3 separate regions of the Homo sapiens genome follow, and regions 2 and 3 are each linked to region 1. A link means that fine-mapping ties the variant in region 1 to the expression of a gene that starts in the linked region. Tissue or cell type: whole blood. Region 1 holds a variant in brackets; each other region holds the start of a gene. Each region is shown on its reference strand, or each on the opposite one. Region 1 holds the start of ZNF316 (zinc finger protein 316). Region 2 holds the start of SLPI (secretory leukocyte peptidase inhibitor). Region 3 holds the start of KCNS1 (potassium voltage-gated channel modifier subfamily S member 1).

Region 1 (5,221 bases):
CTGCTGCCACGCGGGACAGCCCAGACCCCATCCAATCCCAGGGATGGGTGTCCCTACCTACCTGCCGGCAGCAGAAGACAGCCGAGCAGCCCACCGGGGCTCCTTCTGCAGATGAGGGAAAGCCCGGATAAGGCCCCCAAGGTCACAAAGCGGGCTCCTGGGGCGACGGGCCGAGCGCCTCCCGCCCCCCAGGGGGCGTCCGGAGCCGCCTCCTCCTGCAGAGACCTAGACGATGACAGCCCCTCCTGGATGGGTGTGTCCTGGGGGCGGCCGCGGCCCAGCCCCTGCCGCTGCGGCCGAGAAGGCGTGGGCGGGCACCCCGAGGTGTCACGCGTGGCCTCCCGGGCCTGCCCCCTCCGCCTCCTGCCCGGACCGGCCCCGGGGGTCGGCAACGCGCAGGCCCGGACGGGGGTCCGGGAGGCGGGGGCGCTGCCGCGGAAGTCCCTACCCGCGTTCCGCTCCGACTCTGCAGGCCCCGGCCCCGCCGCCTCCCCGCGGCCTCCCCGCGCCGGGCGTCGAGGGCCAGCCCGGCCCCGCCGCCGCCGCCGCCCCCGAGCGCAAGCCCGGCCCGCCCGCACCTGCCGCCCGCGCCGCCGCCCACCGGCCCCGCGAGACCCACTCACCGCGCGGGCCGGGCTGGCCGAGCCACGGGCCGGACACCGGGGCCGGGGCCTGCGGGCCGGCGGCGGACCCCGCGCTACACAAAGTGACGGCCCGGGAGCTGCGCGACGGCGGCGCGTGGGCACCGGAAGTACCGCCGGCCGGCCCCGCCCCGCCCGCGCCCGCGGGGGGAGGAACTTCCGGTCACGCGGGGGCAGCGGCGCGGAGCGGGGAAGCGCGGGTTGCGGGGGTTTGCCCAGCTGGGCCTCGGGCCGGGGCGAGGACGGGGCATGCGGGGAGGGGACGGGAGCGCCCTCGACACTCGTGGGGCGCCCACAACCTCGCCCCGCTCCTGGACACCCTGGCCAGGTCTCGGAGGTGACCCCGAGGTCCCGCCGCTGCGACCACCGCCTTCCCCGAACCCCAGCCCGGCCTCGTTCATCGGGGCGCCCGCTGAGGACCAGGCCCCGCGCTGGGCCCCCTCCGCCAGTCCACGGAGCCTGCCCGGGACCCCAGGATGGTGGAGGGAGGAGGCGACCCCTGTGGTGGGGAGGGGGCCAGGTGTCCACGCCTCCACCAGATCCCCGGGCCCGCGCGGGGTGAACGTCTTGTGGGTGGGGAGGGAGGAGGGACGGGCGGGGTGAACGTCTTATGGGTGGACTGTGGCGGTTGAGTGCAGGAGGAGACTGGGGTTGTGGAGCCCGCACTTGGAGGGACATGGGGTCACGGGCAGGGAAGCGATGTCCAGGCAGAGGGCATGGCCAGTGTGGGGGCAGAAGTGACAGGCGACCCCAGGAACCCAGGGAGGGGTCGGTGAGCTCAGCGGCCACCCCCAGACCCCCACCCACAAGCCTGTCTGCACCTGCTCCCAAGAGGTGCAGCTGGGGTGTCAGGATGAGCTCTGGCATTGGTGGAGTCCAGGGTCTGTCTTCCGCCTGGAATGGTGTGGCCTGGGCCCCTTCCCCAGCTCCCAGCCCGCCTGCACCACTGTTCTTGGTGCTTTTCTGTGGGGACCCCAGGCCTGACTGGGCAAGAGATAGAGGAGGACTCGGCCAGGCACGGTGTCTGTAATCCTAGCACTTTGGGAGGTCTTGGCGGGCGGATCACGAGGTCAGGAGTTCGAGACTAGCTTGGCTAACATGGTGGGTGAAACCCCATCTCTACTAAAAATACAAAAATTAGCCGGCCGTGGTAGCGCACCCCTGTAGTCCCAGCTGCTTGGGAGGCTGAGGCAGGAGAATCGTTTGAAGCCGGGAGGCAGAGGGTGCAGTGAGCCGAGATCACACCACTGCACGCCAGCCTGGGCGACAAGGTGAGACTCTGTCTCAAAATAATAATAAGATAGAGGAGGACTCAAACCTTAGTCCCACAGAGGGGTGCAGCCCCAACCCCTTGAATCAGACCCTCACAGTGATGTCGCTTGGCTCTTGGTGTCTTAAAATGTCTTAAAGTTAATAACATTTTAAAATAAGGAGTCCCATTCTTGTTTAAAAAATAAAATTGAAAAATCAGGTTCTAATGCGGGGTCTCACACCTATAAATTAAGCACTCTGGGGGGCCGAGGCGGGTCACACCTGTAATCCCAGCACTTTGGGAAAACAAGGTGGGAGGATTGCTTGAGCCCAGGAGGTTGAGGCTGCAGTGAGCTATGATAGCACCACTCCACTCCAGCCTGGGCAACAGATTGAAACCCTGTCTCTAATAATAAATAAAATCTGAAAAATCAGAAGTTCTGGCAACACAAGGCCCCTGGTTTGCAGGGCACCAGCCAGTAGGGCCTGAGAAGTAACCAGCTTCTGTGGGTGGGACTGAGCGTGGCCATGGTCCTCAGTGCCCACCACTCCCTGTCCCTTTCCTCCAGGCCCACATCTGAATGACACTGCCTGACTCTCCTGTGGGTATCTTTTAGAACCCCTAATCCCTAGATTAGACCCTTCCCCACCCTACCTGATCCGTCAGGTTCAGTAGGAAGGTGCAATTGCCCCCAGGCACTCCCAGGAAGGGCTCTGACTGTAGGACAATTAACAATTGACCAAAAGCAGTGTCACCAGGTGATGTGGTTTGGCTGTGTCCCCACTGAAATCTCGTCTTGAATTGTAGTTCTCATGATCCCCACATGTTGTGGAAGGGACCCGGTGGGAGGTAATTAAATCATGGGGGCAGTTCGCCTCATGCTGTTCTCATGTTAGTGAGTTCTCATGAGATCTGATGGTTTTGTAAGGGGCTTTTCCCCTTTGCTCCAC[A/T]CTTCTCCTTCCTGCCATCATGTGAAGAAGGAAGTGTTTGCTTCCCCTTCCACCATGATTGTAAATTTCCTGAGGCCTCCCCAGTCATGCGGAACTGTGAGTCAGTTTTTGGTGGTGGTGGTGGTTGGTGGTGGTTGGTGGTGGTGGTGGTGGTTTGTTTTGTTTTTGTTTTTTTCTTGAGATGGAGTCTCGCACTCTGTTGCCCAAGCTGGAGTGCAGTGGCACAATCTCTGCTCACTGCAACGTCAACCTCCCAGGTTCAAGTGATTCTCCTGCCTCAGCCTCCCAAGTAGCTGGGATTACAGGTGTGCACTACCACGCCTGGCTAATTTTTGTATTTTTAGTTGAGATGGGGTTTCACCGTGTTGGTCAGGCTGGTCTCGAACTCCTGACCTCGTGATCCGCCCGCCTCGGCCTCCCAAAGTGCTGGGATTACAGGCAAGAGCCACTGTGAGTTAAACCTCTTTCCTTTTATAAGTTTCCCGGTCTTGGGCAGTTCTTTACAGCAGCATGAAAATGGACTAATACACCAGGTAAAGGGAAGCAGCTGGAATGTGAAGGCACCAGGCCTTTGCCACCCTTAGCCCTGCAGGAGCAGGAAAGGGCAGGATGTTGTCAAGCCTGGAGGGAGGTGGAGATATAAAGATGGGGACACTGTGGGCACTGTGATTATAGAGGGACAGTGTGGCAAGGAGAGAGTACCCCAACCCTGCCCTCCTGCACCCTGTCACTTCCCAGTGCTGCCCGTTGCCCAAAACCACCTGTAATGTGGACAGCAAGGGACCCCAGAAGAGGAGTGTGTATAATAGAGTCAGCAGCTCCATCCCGGCCTTAGATCCCTCCACCCTGTCAGGCAGGGACCCCGAATCACCCCAGCATCTCCTCAGATCTCCTCTTGGCCTGTCCTCACCTGATACCTAATCCAAGACTCAATTTCTTCCTCTCCCTCGTCCACAGATAATTTTCCTTTTCCTTTTCCTTTTCCTTTCCTTTCTTTCCTTCTTTCTTTCCCTTCCTTCCTTTCTTCCTTCCCTTTTCTTCCTTTCCCTTTCCTTTTTAGGAAAGGAAAGGGCGTGAGCCACCTCACCGGGCCCTACGAGTGAGTTTTGCTTCTTGCTCCAACAGCACTGCTGAGGGGCTGAGGAGACGGAGAGGAGACGAAGGAAGCTGGTGGGACTTATGTGTCCTTGGCCTTAGGGAGATGCTAGACCAGGCCTGGGCCACCTGAGGATGCCTCTGACCTGGGGACAATTGGTTGTCATAAACTGTAGTTTAGTTGGACCTTCTTGTCACTCACTACTGAACTCAGTCTTGATAGATTTCCCTAGACTCATTTGAAGAAGGAAGTAATTAAAAAGCAGGCCAGGATTGGCCCATGCCTGTAGTCCCAGCACTTTGGAAGGCTGAGGCAGGAGGAAAGCTTAAGGCCAGGAGTTTGAGAGCAGCCTGGGCAACATAGCAAGACCCTGTCGCTACACAACATTTTTAAAAATTAGCTGGGTGCAGTGGCTCACGCCTGGAATCCCAGCACTTTGGGAGGCCGAAGCAGGAAGATAGCTTGAGCCCAGGAGTTCAAGACCAGCCTGGGCAACATAGTGAAACCTTGACTCTACTAAAAATTTAAAAATTAGTTGGGTGTGGTGGTGCATGCCTGTAGTCCCAGCTACTCAGGAGGCTGTGGTGAGAGGATTGCTTGAGCCCAAGAGGTTGAGGCTGCAATGAACTATGTTCACACCACTGCACTCCAGCCTGGGTGACAGAGGAAAACTCTGTCTCAAAAATAAAATAAAATAGGCCAGGCACGGTGGCTCATGCCTGTAATCCCAGCACTTTGGGAGGCTGAGGCAGATGGATCACGAGATCAGGAGATCGAGACCATCCTGGCTAACACGGTGAAAACCCGTCTGTACTGAAAATACAAAAAATTAGCCGGGCATGGTGGTGGGCACCTGGAGTCCCAGCTACTGGGGAGGCTGAGGCAGGAGAATGGCGTGAACCTGGGAGGCGGAGCTTGCAGTGAGCCGAGATTGTGCCATTGCACTCCAGCCTGGGCGACACAGCAAAATTCTGTCTCAAAAAAATAATAATAAAATAAAATAAAATAGCTGGGTGCAGTGGCTCACACCTGTAATCCCAGCACTTTGGGAGGCCGAGGCAGGTGGATCACCTAAGGTCAGGAGTTCAAGTCCAGCCTAGCTAACATGGTGAAACCCTGTTGCTACTAAAAATACAAAAATTAGGGGCCAGGCACAGTGGCTCACACCTGTAATCCCAGCACTTGGGGAGGCCAAGGTGGGCGGATCATCTGAGGTCAGGATTTCAAGACCAGCCTGGCCAACATGGAGAAACCCTGTCTCTACTAAAAATATAAAATTAGC
Region 2 (5,221 bases), not on the chromosome of region 1:
ATGGGATTTCACCATGTTGGCCAGGCTGGTCTCAAACTCCTGACCTCAAGTGATCCACCCACCTCAGTCTCCCAAAGTTCTGGGATCACAGGAGTGAGCCACCACTCCCAGCCTTGAGATAGATTGAATGAGTCAGTCTCAGGTTAAGATTTGGTTAGGAGTGGAAGTGTCCTCCACCAGACAGGTTCTGGGGATCAGCATGTGAGTAACCTGTTTTAGAAAAGCTCAATCTTGTGTGTGTCGTTAATCCGCTATGCAGCTTTGGGCCTGGATCTTCTTCTAAGGGATTCAGTCTCTTTTATGCAAGCTGTGGGTTTGGTCTAGGGGTTAGCATTTTCTGTAAAGGACCAGACGATAAGTATTTTAGGCTGTGCAGTAAATATTTTAGGTCCCTGTTGCCATTGTAGTGGAAAGATAGCCTTAGACAATACATAAATTAATGGATGTGTGGCTATGTGCCAATAAAACTTTATGAAAACAGGTAACTAGGTGGATTTGGTCCAAGGACTGTAGTTTGCTGATCTAGAAAACCCTTGAAGTCCTCTTTTTAGTCTTAACATTCTATGATGTAAACATTTAGAACCAATTATGTCAAAGATAATAATGATTATATACTATTATCTTCTTATGACACCCATGGAAGACATTGCTAATTGGGCACAGGGCTCTTTTCTGATGAGAAAGGAGCTGGCTCTAATCAGTCAATCACAGATTGAGCAATCAGTCAATCACAGATTTAAAAAAAACTTAAGCTGTAGCATTTTCCTTTTAATTTTTTTTTTTTTTGAGACGGAGTCTCAGTTTGTTGCCTAGGCTAGAATGCAATGGTACAATCTCAGCTCACTGCAACCTCTACCTCCAGGGTTCAAGTGATTCTCCTGCCTCAGCCTCCTGAGTAGCTGGGATTACAGGTGTGTGCCACACTGCCTGGCTAATTTTTGTATTTTTAGTGGAGATAGGGTTTCACCATGTTGGCCAGGCTGCTCTTGAACTCCTGACCTCAAGTGATCCGCCCACCTTGGTTTCCCAAAGTGCTAGGATTACAGGCATAAGCCACCGTGCCCAGCCCCTTTTCATTCTTTAAGAAATAAATATTTAGAAAACTCCAGATAATTTCTTGAGTGTGGCACTGAGGAAAATAGGAACAAACAGAGAGAGAGAGAGAGAGAGAGAACAGGAACTCTGTGAGAGAAATCAAATTATCCCCTGGGTGGTGGAAGTGAGAACAAAAATCTTGACCTGAGAGTGTCATTACCCATTGGTGGAAATCATAGCCTCCATTTCTCTCTTACCTACCCTACTAAGTACTCCAACTAAGAGTGAATGCACCTGGCTCATAGTAGTTACCTTGTGCATATTAATTTTCTTCCTTTTCTTTTTCCACCAAAATTTGACTGATGATTGATTATGTCCAAGTCTTCTGATCCACCAAAATTCAAACCATGGAGTGACTTTTGTATAAAGGGATCTGCTGCCAGTTGCCTGTTTGGTTGTGGAATACTTAAATACTTCATGTGGGGCCATCGCTACTTGATAATGAGTGGGTCTTTCATGTCTGTGGAAAGTTCCACAAACCTTCACCTTAGGAATGAATGGGAGAATTCCAAGCATGAAGATAATGAGTCAAGAGCTTGGAGTTTGTAGCTAGATGAGCTTTGGTTGAATTTTATTTTATTTTATTTTTTTAAGACAGGGTATCGCTCTGTCCCCCAAGCTGGAATGCAGTGGCACAATCATGGCTCACTGCAGCCTCAAACTCCTGGGCTAAAGCGATCCTCCTGGCTCAGCCTCCCAAGTAGCTGGGACTACAGGCATACGTACGTCATCATGCCTGGCTAATTTTTTACATTTTTTTGTAGAGATGGGGTCTCAATATGTGGCCAGGGCTGGTCTCAAACTCCTACTCTCAAGGAATCCATACACCTCAGCCTCCTGGGCAGCTGAGACAGCAAGTGTGCGACCCTACACTCAGCTATGGGCTGAATTTTAGAGATAATGGTCGCTCTCTTTATAATTAGAAGCAACCTATGCAGACTGGGTAGCAAATAGAATGGGTTTAATTTTTTGCTGTCATGTGAGATCTGTAAGGGATTTTGGGGAATTTTAGGAAGCAATCCTCTAAGATCTCAAATTATCTCACAGCTAAATGTAGATTACAGTGACTGATGAGCTGCTTTCCCCCTTTATCTCAGATTCATTTCAATTCTCTTTAGTGGGAAGGGATACTATTCATTTGTTCTTTTCATTCAGAGTCCCTTCATGCCCTTAATTTCATAACCCTCTGAGAAGGGCTGACTTGTTAGTATCATTTCATTTCACAGCTGAGACAACTGAGCTCCAGAGAGATTTGTGGAGAGCGGAGCTCTTCTTCAGCTTTCATTTGTGAGTGCTTTTCCTGTGTCAGGCACAGAACAGGCACTGGGGATATAACGGTGTAAATATTTCAGGGAACTAAGTATCAGTTGGTTGAACGAGCTGAACTTTTGAGAAAGAAACTGCATTGAGTAATCAGCAGAGTTTCACAATGCCTGAGAGTCCAGTAATGTGAGAATCAGAATTAGCAATGTGAGAATAGAATGTATTGCACAAAGTCTCAGCAGGGAGTCTGTGTCTGGTTTTAGTTCCAGGTCCGGGTAGCACCTTTGCAATTGACCACTTCTTCCCTCTCTCCACCTATAAGGCTAATGGCCTGGGATCTTGTGATGTTTAGGGCTCAGATGGACACTGAGATGGCCTCTTTAATCAACCAACTTCCCAGGCCAATCTCTTCCCTTTCTTTTCTGATAGTTGCTGTGTTGGCCTCATAGCCTTACCTGGCATAGGAAAGATAAACAATCTCCTTGGTGTCAGGATTTCTGGTCTCTGGCTACGTTTCCTGCTTATGCAATAGTAGCTGGGAGAGGCCGAAAGAATTCTGGTGGGGCCACACCCACTGGTGAAAGAATAAATAGTGAGGTTTGGCATTGGCCATCAGAGTCACTCCTGCCTTCACCATGAAGTCCAGCGGCCTCTTCCCCTTCCTGGTGCTGCTTGCCCTGGGAACTCTGGCACCTTGGGCTGTGGAAGGCTCTGGAAAGTGTAAGTTGGAGTCACTCTGGTCTAATCTGGGCTGCAGGGTCAGAGGTGGGGTCTCCTTGTGGTGTGGGTGTGTCCCCTTCTGTAGGCTCTGATCCCTCAGCTTAGTTTCGGGAGACCTCCCTGAGGGTGGAATACATGTCTGGCTGAGCTCCAAGGTTTGTGTGACAGTTTGAGCTTCTGGAAATGCTTCCTCTATGCAGCCATGCTGTCAGCCCAGGTCCCACTCTCTCTCTCTCTCTCTCTCTCTCTCTCTCTCTCTCATACTCCGCCTTCTTCTTCACCTGTCTGCGACTCTCAAATCATTAGTTTCTGACTCTGCTTCCTTGTGTCTTTGCTTCTGCTATTTTGTCTCTGTGCTTCTGCCTTGGGCTTTAGCTCTCAACTTCTCTCACACTGGTTCTATTTATCTTTGTTTACCTCTCTCCATCTCCATCACTCCCAGCCTTCCTCTCTGCCTTTGTGTAGCCTTGTTTTGCTCTTGGGTGGGAGGTCTTGACTAGAAGCCTGCTGCCCTTTTCTTGGGTGTGAAACGTCCCCTGTCCATTTGTCTAATTTAATCAAGCCCATCAATACACCTGGAGATCAGGCAGGCATGACCCTTTGGGCTTTGTGGACAGCTACTGAGGTAAGGGTCTCTCCCCCTCAAAAGTGGTGCTTTGTTCAGGAGGCATGATGGGTCCTCAGTACCCAGCCTCCTCCTGACCTCTTGACTTTCTCTTCAAAAGCCTTCAAAGCTGGAGTCTGTCCTCCTAAGAAATCTGCCCAGTGCCTTAGATACAAGAAACCTGAGTGCCAGAGTGACTGGCAGTGTCCAGGGAAGAAGAGATGTTGTCCTGACACTTGTGGCATCAAATGCCTGGATCCTGTTGACACCCCAAACCCAAGTAAGCAGGTCGGGGAACTGGGTAGAGAGGAGTGAGCCTGGGGACACAGCATTAGAGGGATGGAACTGGGTGATGGGTCCTGCCAGGCCTCCTTGTCAATCCGTCAGTGAGTCACACTGCCCTAAGCAGGAAGGTAGCCAGCAGCTGGTGAAGCAGCGGGCATTTAGATAGCCAGGTAGTTGGAAGCCTCCCACCTAGTCAGCACTGGGTGGCTGGCCACCTGCATCAATGGGGGGCCTGAAGTTCTAGGAGAGCCAGGTGCTATGTTTGGGGGCCGCCTTAGGGAGAAGGTGGTGGTGATAGAGGTGGGGAGGGGATGATCCCCCCTGCTGAAGCTGGAGCAGGGGCTCACTCTAAAAAGTGGGGATGGGAGGGGTTGTATAAAGTACAAGGCCTCTGACCGGTAGCCTCACTCTCACCCAGCAAGGAGGAAGCCTGGGAAGTGCCCAGTGACTTATGGCCAATGTTTGATGCTTAACCCCCCCAATTTCTGTGAGATGGATGGCCAGTGCAAGCGTGACTTGAAGTGTTGCATGGGCATGTGTGGGAAATCCTGCGTTTCCCCTGTGAAAGGTAAGCAGGGGATGAGGGCACACTGAGCTCCCTCCAGCCCTCTCAGCCTCAACCCTCTGGAGGCCCAGGCATATGGGCAGGGGGACTCCTGAACCCTACTCCAAGCACAGCCTCTGTCTGACTCCCTTGTCCTTCAAGAGAACTGTTCTCCAGGTCTCAGGGCCAGGATTTCCATAGGATCGCCTGTGGCTTTGATTCTATTCTAGTGTCTCTGGGTGGGGGTCCTGGGCAAGTGTCTTTCTGAGTCTCAGTTTCTTTATCGGTAAAATGTACATAATGAGATTGAAAGTGCTCTGCAAAGCACTATGTGCACTAAGAATTTATTATTCAGGTTGTTTCCATCATGTTTTCTGAGGTGAAATCACAAAGGATCAGTGGAGTTTGAGGATTATCTAGTTCAATGCTTTGAGTTTAGAGTTTTACGGTGAAAATGAGACTTGTCTCCTGACACTAAGTCTCTCTCAACTATAGCGCTATCTTGCTATTTTCTCTATCTCAGAAGGATCCTTGGGCAGGAGGAAGGATGTGGATATGATTTGGCTGGTTTCTATGCTGAAGCTCTTATCTGATTTTCTCTCACAGCTTGATTCCTGCCATATGGAGGAGGCTCTGGAGTCCTGCTCTGTGTGGTCCAGGTCCTTTCCACCCTGAGACTTGGCTCCACCACTGATATCCTCCTTTGGGGA
Region 3 (5,221 bases), not on the chromosome of region 1:
CACCAAAACTTCATTTACCTCTCACTGTGTAATCTGGGGATGAAACCAGATCCTGGTTTCATTCTCTTCTGCCTTTGGGAAATAGGTCTGTCTTTTCTCTCAATTTTGGAAACCGTCTCTGCAGCTCCAGGGAAAACTCCTGAGTCCTGAGGGGTAGCAAAGGCTGCAGACAAACTCTTAGGCCAGGAAACAGAAGACCTGCTTCTCGGCAAATCTGCCTCAGTTTCCCTGTTGGTCAAATGAGGGAATTGGGCAAGATGCTCACTAAGCAGCTTCCTGCTCTAACTTCTTCTTTCGAGGGAAAAACTAAAGTGGCACAGCCTAGGGCTGTGCTGTCTAATATGGCAGCCACGAGCCATGTGTGGCTACCGAGCACATAAAATGTGACTAGTCCAAACTGAGATATGCTATAGATAAATCTCAAAAAATCTCTCTCAAAAAATAAAAAATAAAATAAATTAGTACACTAGATTTATATATGGGAGGCAGAATTCAGATGACCCCTCCTCAATGATCCTCATCCCTGTATAATCTCCTCCTCTTTAAGTGTAGGTGGAACCCGTGAATGTATATTATATGGCAGAAGGGAGAGTGCCCTGGGTGGGCCTGGACTAATCAGGTGAGAGTTTTAAAGCCAGAGATTTTTCTCTGGCTGGTTACAGGAGAGGAATTCAGCACTCTGATGTCCCTGAAAGAAAGCAAGCATTCATGCTATGAACTGCCTATGGGGCAGCTTCTAGAATCTGAGATTGATCCCTCGGAGACAGCTAACAGGAAAAGAGAGACCTCAGTCCTATAACCACAAGGAAATGAATTCTGCCAACAATCTGTGAGCTTGGAAGAAAACTCTGAAGCTCACATGAGAACCTCAACCCTGGCCAACACCTTGGCTTCAACCTGGTGAGACCCTGAGGGTCCAGCCAGGCCATGCCCAGACTTCTGACCTACAGAAACCATGAGATCATAAATTTGTATTGTTTTAAGCTACTAAATTGTGGTAATTTGTTATGTAGCAATAAGAAAAATTAGTACTGGATTTTAGAGACTTAGTACAAAAAAAAGAAAATGTAAAATATCTCAATAATTTCTTTACTGATTCCAATGTTGAAATCATAATATTTTAGATTTAATAAAATATATCACTAAAAATACAGTTGATCCTGAAACAACACGAGTTTGAACTGCTAGTGTCCACTTACATGCAGATTTTTTTCCAATAAATACATTGGAAAATTTTTGGAGATTTGTGACAATTTGAAAAAACTTACAGATGAACCATGTAGACTAGAAATATCAAAAGCCTTAAGAATAAGTTAGATATGTCGTGAATGCCTAAGATATATGTAGATACTATTTATGTGTCAATCGACTGTTTATATTATTGGTAAGGTTTCTGGCGAACAGTAAGTTATTACTAGTTAAGTTTCAGGGGAGTCAAAAGTTATATTCTAATTTTCTAGGCATGGAGGAGTGGTTTCCCTAACCCCCACTGTTTAAGGGGTAACTGTAATTTCGCCTGTTTTTTACTTCTTTAAAATGTTGCAATCAGAAATGTAAAAGGACATATGTGGGCCGGACGCGGTGGCTCATGCCTGTAATCTCAGCATTTTGTGAGGCCAAGGCAGGTGGATCATTTGAGGCCAGGAGTTCAAGACCAGCCTGGCCAACATGGTGAAACCCCTTCTGTACTAAAAATACAAAAATTAGCTGGGCATGGTGGTGCATGCCTGTAATCCCAGCTACTCAGGAGGCTGAGGCAGGAGAATCGCTTGAACCCAGGAGGCGGAGGTTGCAGTGAGCCAAGATTGTGCCACTGCACTCCAGCCTGCAACAGAGTGAGTGAGACTCTATCTCAAAAAATCAAAAATAAAATAAAATAAAATTATATATGTGGCTCACATTATAGGTGTTGGACTGTGCTGGCCTAGAGGACTCAGAAGTCAGCCATGGGACCTCCGGCAAGTCACCACACCTCTCAAAGCAGTTCTTATCTGTGAGATAGGAATAATAGTAGCACTTACCCCACAGATAAATTTGCAGTTTGAGTGAGATTGAGGTCTGTGCTTGACCCAAGGTAAGTACTCAATAAACGTTGGTAATTATCATTATTATTAATAACAATATGTGCAAAGGCTCATATCCAGGCCCTAGTCTCCAGGAGCCTCTCCCCAACCAGGCACACAGCAGCCACACAACAGGTACATGTGTGGGGATTTCACAACCTCTACAAAGCTCTTTGGCACATGTTCTCTGCCCTCACAACCCACTTGGCAGGTGGGAATCAGGAACCCGTGGGCAGGTAAGGACACTGCGCCTCAGGGGTAAAATGATCGTTTCAAGCTTCACAACTCACCTAGGAAGAACCTGGGGCTCCAAGGGAGATGAGGCCACCTTCTACAGCTCCCTAACTCAGATGCCCACGGTCTGAGAAAATGACTGGAGCTCACCCCTAAAATGGGCGACATAAGATCCTGGCCCTGTCAAGTGTGTGTGCCAGGAATAACTGAGATCAATCACTTGCAGCAGCTGAAGTACCCTGGCACATACTAAACACTCAATTAAGTAAATCATGATTACTGTTGTTCCTTTGCCAGAGAAGCTTCTGCTGAAATCCCTCTCTACGGGGAATCCTCACGCCCTAAATGACCCCTCCTTCCCGGCCCGTAACTCCGGAGGATGCCCCTGCAGGTAGGCCCAGTCTCCAGACACCACCACCCCCCAGCCGAGTCAGGAATAGAAACCGCCGCCTCCGGCCGCCAGCGGCCTCACTCCCTCCTCCGGCAGCGATCGATGCGGCCTTCAGCCGCGGGGGACTAGGCAAGGAAGAAGGAAGGAGAGGGCAGCGGGGCCGCCTGCAGCAGGAGGCTCGGCGGGGCCGGCGGGGCAGAGGCGAGACCGAGTATAGCCAGCGGCTCCCAGCCTCGGTGGCTTTGGGACAGACACGCGAGGCGCCCGGGAGGTGCCACCACAGGTAAGGGGCCTCCTTTGGGGAGGGACGTGGCTCCGGGACGGTCCCGGGCAGCCAGAGTGGGAGGCGGGGCTGCCTGGGGCTCCTGGTGCTCTTACCCCCTCTAAGAGACCCCCCACCCCCCGCCAAGGAGGAAGCAGTGTGGGGTGGCCGCGCTTTGGAGACCCTGGCTGGTACAGTTTGCTCATCTGTAAAATGGGATTAGAAAACCTCCCTGGCAGGGTTGGTGTAGGGATTAAACCGAGTGAGGTGTGCATGGAGCCCAGAGGAGTGACTAGCAGATAGGAGGTGCTCAAAATAAGTGTGTGGAGAGAGAATGAAATAAAAAAACCTGGTCTCCAACCTTAGCTGTGCCATGGACTAGCTGGGTGATTTTGAACAAGTCACTTGGTCTTTCTTACTGATATTCAGGTTCTTGTCAGAAAATGTTTGTTGAATTAATTATCCTGTTTCATAGAGCAGGAAAGTGAGCTCCTGATGGATGAAGGGATTTGCCCAATATTATGCTTCTAATGGGTGATGGAACTGGATTAGAAATTTCATTTTTTGATGCCAAATGCAGGTGGAGATCCAAGTGGAGGTGGGAGCGGAGCTACATCACACGTTTATTGTGCATTGATTATGTGCCAGGGACCATGCTGCCGATAAACACCTTGCATCATTTAATTCTCTGAGCCTCTCCTGGAAAGTATGATGCTACCCGGTTCCACAGACAGGGAAACAAGCCCAGAGAGGGCGACGAATGCACTCAAGGACAGCAGCTAGTAAGTGGTAGACTCAGGTCTGACCACAGGGAAGTACACAGGATTAACATTTATTGAGCATCTACTGTTTTCCCAGGGCTTTGACATATACCACAATAATGATGCATCCAAAGCAACATTATCCCCATTCTAGAGGTAAAAGAGCTAAAGCCCAGAGTGGGAAGGAGACTGGCCTGAGGTCACACAAGTGATAGAGCTAAGGGTGGAACCCCAAATCCATTTAATGCCAAGCCCAGGTGCTTTACACACACTTAATCCCTAGTCTAGGCATTACTGAACCCACAGTGCAAATGAGATTGCCAGTGGTGAGGAGGTGTCACTAGCCCCCAATTCCAGCAGAGTCAGGAGTCAGTGGGTAGTGGAAGAACCTAAATCCTTCCTGAGTATCCACTAAGGCTGAGCACTTTCTATAATCTACCTTAATCCTCCAGTCATCCCTGGAGGTAGGTGCTATTATCTACGTTGTGCAGGAAATTGAGACCTGGAGGACAAATAGCTTCCTCAAGGCCCCAGGTGCGTCAGGGGTGGAGATAAACCCAGGTTTGCCTGACTCCAGAAGATAGTGACACCAGTGAATAATTTATTAAATTCCTTCTGTGAGCCAAGCCCAAGAAAGACACTAGGTCATTTAATCTTCATAACCACACTTTGAGGTGAATATTTTTATTTCCATTTCACAGAGGCTCAGAGAGGTGATGTTACTTGCCTAAGGTGACACAAGAGAGTCAAGATTCAAGGTCAGGTCTGGCTGACTCTACAGATGCTTTACATAATCTAAAGCAGGAGCTCTCAAACTTGACTATGTAGCCGAATCACTTTCCAATCTTGTTAGAACACAAAGTGCTAGACCCCACCCTTAGAGTTCCCGATTCAGTAAATCGATGGCAGGCTGAGAATTTGCATCTTTGACAAATTCCCAGGTGATGCTGATGCTGCTGGTCCGGGGAACACACTATGAGAACCTCCGGTCTAAAGTGGTGCTGCCAACACCCCTAGGAGGTAAGTGTTACTATCCTCATTTTGCAGAAGAAACAGGTTCAGAGGGCTGGCGGGCCCAAGATCCCACAGTAGACCTTTGGTGTAAATAAATCCAAGTTTGTCCTGGAAAAGGAGACATCCTATGTGAGCACCCACTAGGTGCCAGGACATCCTGCGATTCCATCGCTTTCATATCCTTCCAGGTAGATCTCAGCATTTACTTTCCAAAGGAGAAAAATGAAATGGGGGTGGGGTGGGTCAGTGATTTGGCCAAAGTCAAATGATGGGGATGAAGGATAGTCAAAGCCAGGCCTGACTCTGAGTCCAGAGGGCACCTGACATCTACTGAGCGCCTCCTGCATACCAGATGCTTCACACACAGCCTCCAACACCCCTTGGCTGGTTGGATGGAGGAGGGGATTTTAACCTGGTCTTCCAGGAAGGGAAGCCCGGGAACTCCTCAGCGCGCCCTTCTGGTGTCCGCAGGGAGGAGCACTGAAACCTTTGTGAG

What was found.
Region 2: SLPI starts here. The variant in region 1 is fine-mapped to the expression of SLPI in whole blood (TOPMed, PIP above 0.99).
Region 3: it holds the start of KCNS1, and the variant in region 1 is fine-mapped to the expression of KCNS1 in whole blood (TOPMed, PIP above 0.99).

The regions. Positions count from the first base shown.
Region 1 is chr7:6,632,850-6,638,070 of GRCh38, reverse strand. ZNF316 (zinc finger protein 316) reads right to left here and starts at 753. Exons shown (of 9, transcript NM_001278559.2): 1 at 624-753; 2 at 62-225. RefSeq lists silencers at 1-413, 654-1,073. The variant A/T (reference allele first, on the strand shown) is at 2,844.
Region 2 is chr20:45,252,316-45,257,536 of GRCh38, reverse strand. SLPI (secretory leukocyte peptidase inhibitor) reads left to right here and starts at 2,973. Exons shown (of 4, transcript NM_003064.4): 1 at 2,973-3,078; 2 at 3,804-3,962; 3 at 4,386-4,535; 4 at 5,118-5,221. The coding sequence starts at 2,994. The coding sequence ends at 5,122. The region is part of intron 2 of LOC105372630 (a long non-coding RNA gene); the gene reads right to left.
Region 3 is chr20:45,098,671-45,103,891 of GRCh38, reverse strand. KCNS1 (potassium voltage-gated channel modifier subfamily S member 1) reads left to right here and starts at 2,765. Exons shown (of 4, transcript NM_001322799.2): 1 at 2,765-2,971; 2 at 4,653-4,731; 3 at 5,197-5,221. The coding sequence starts at 4,656.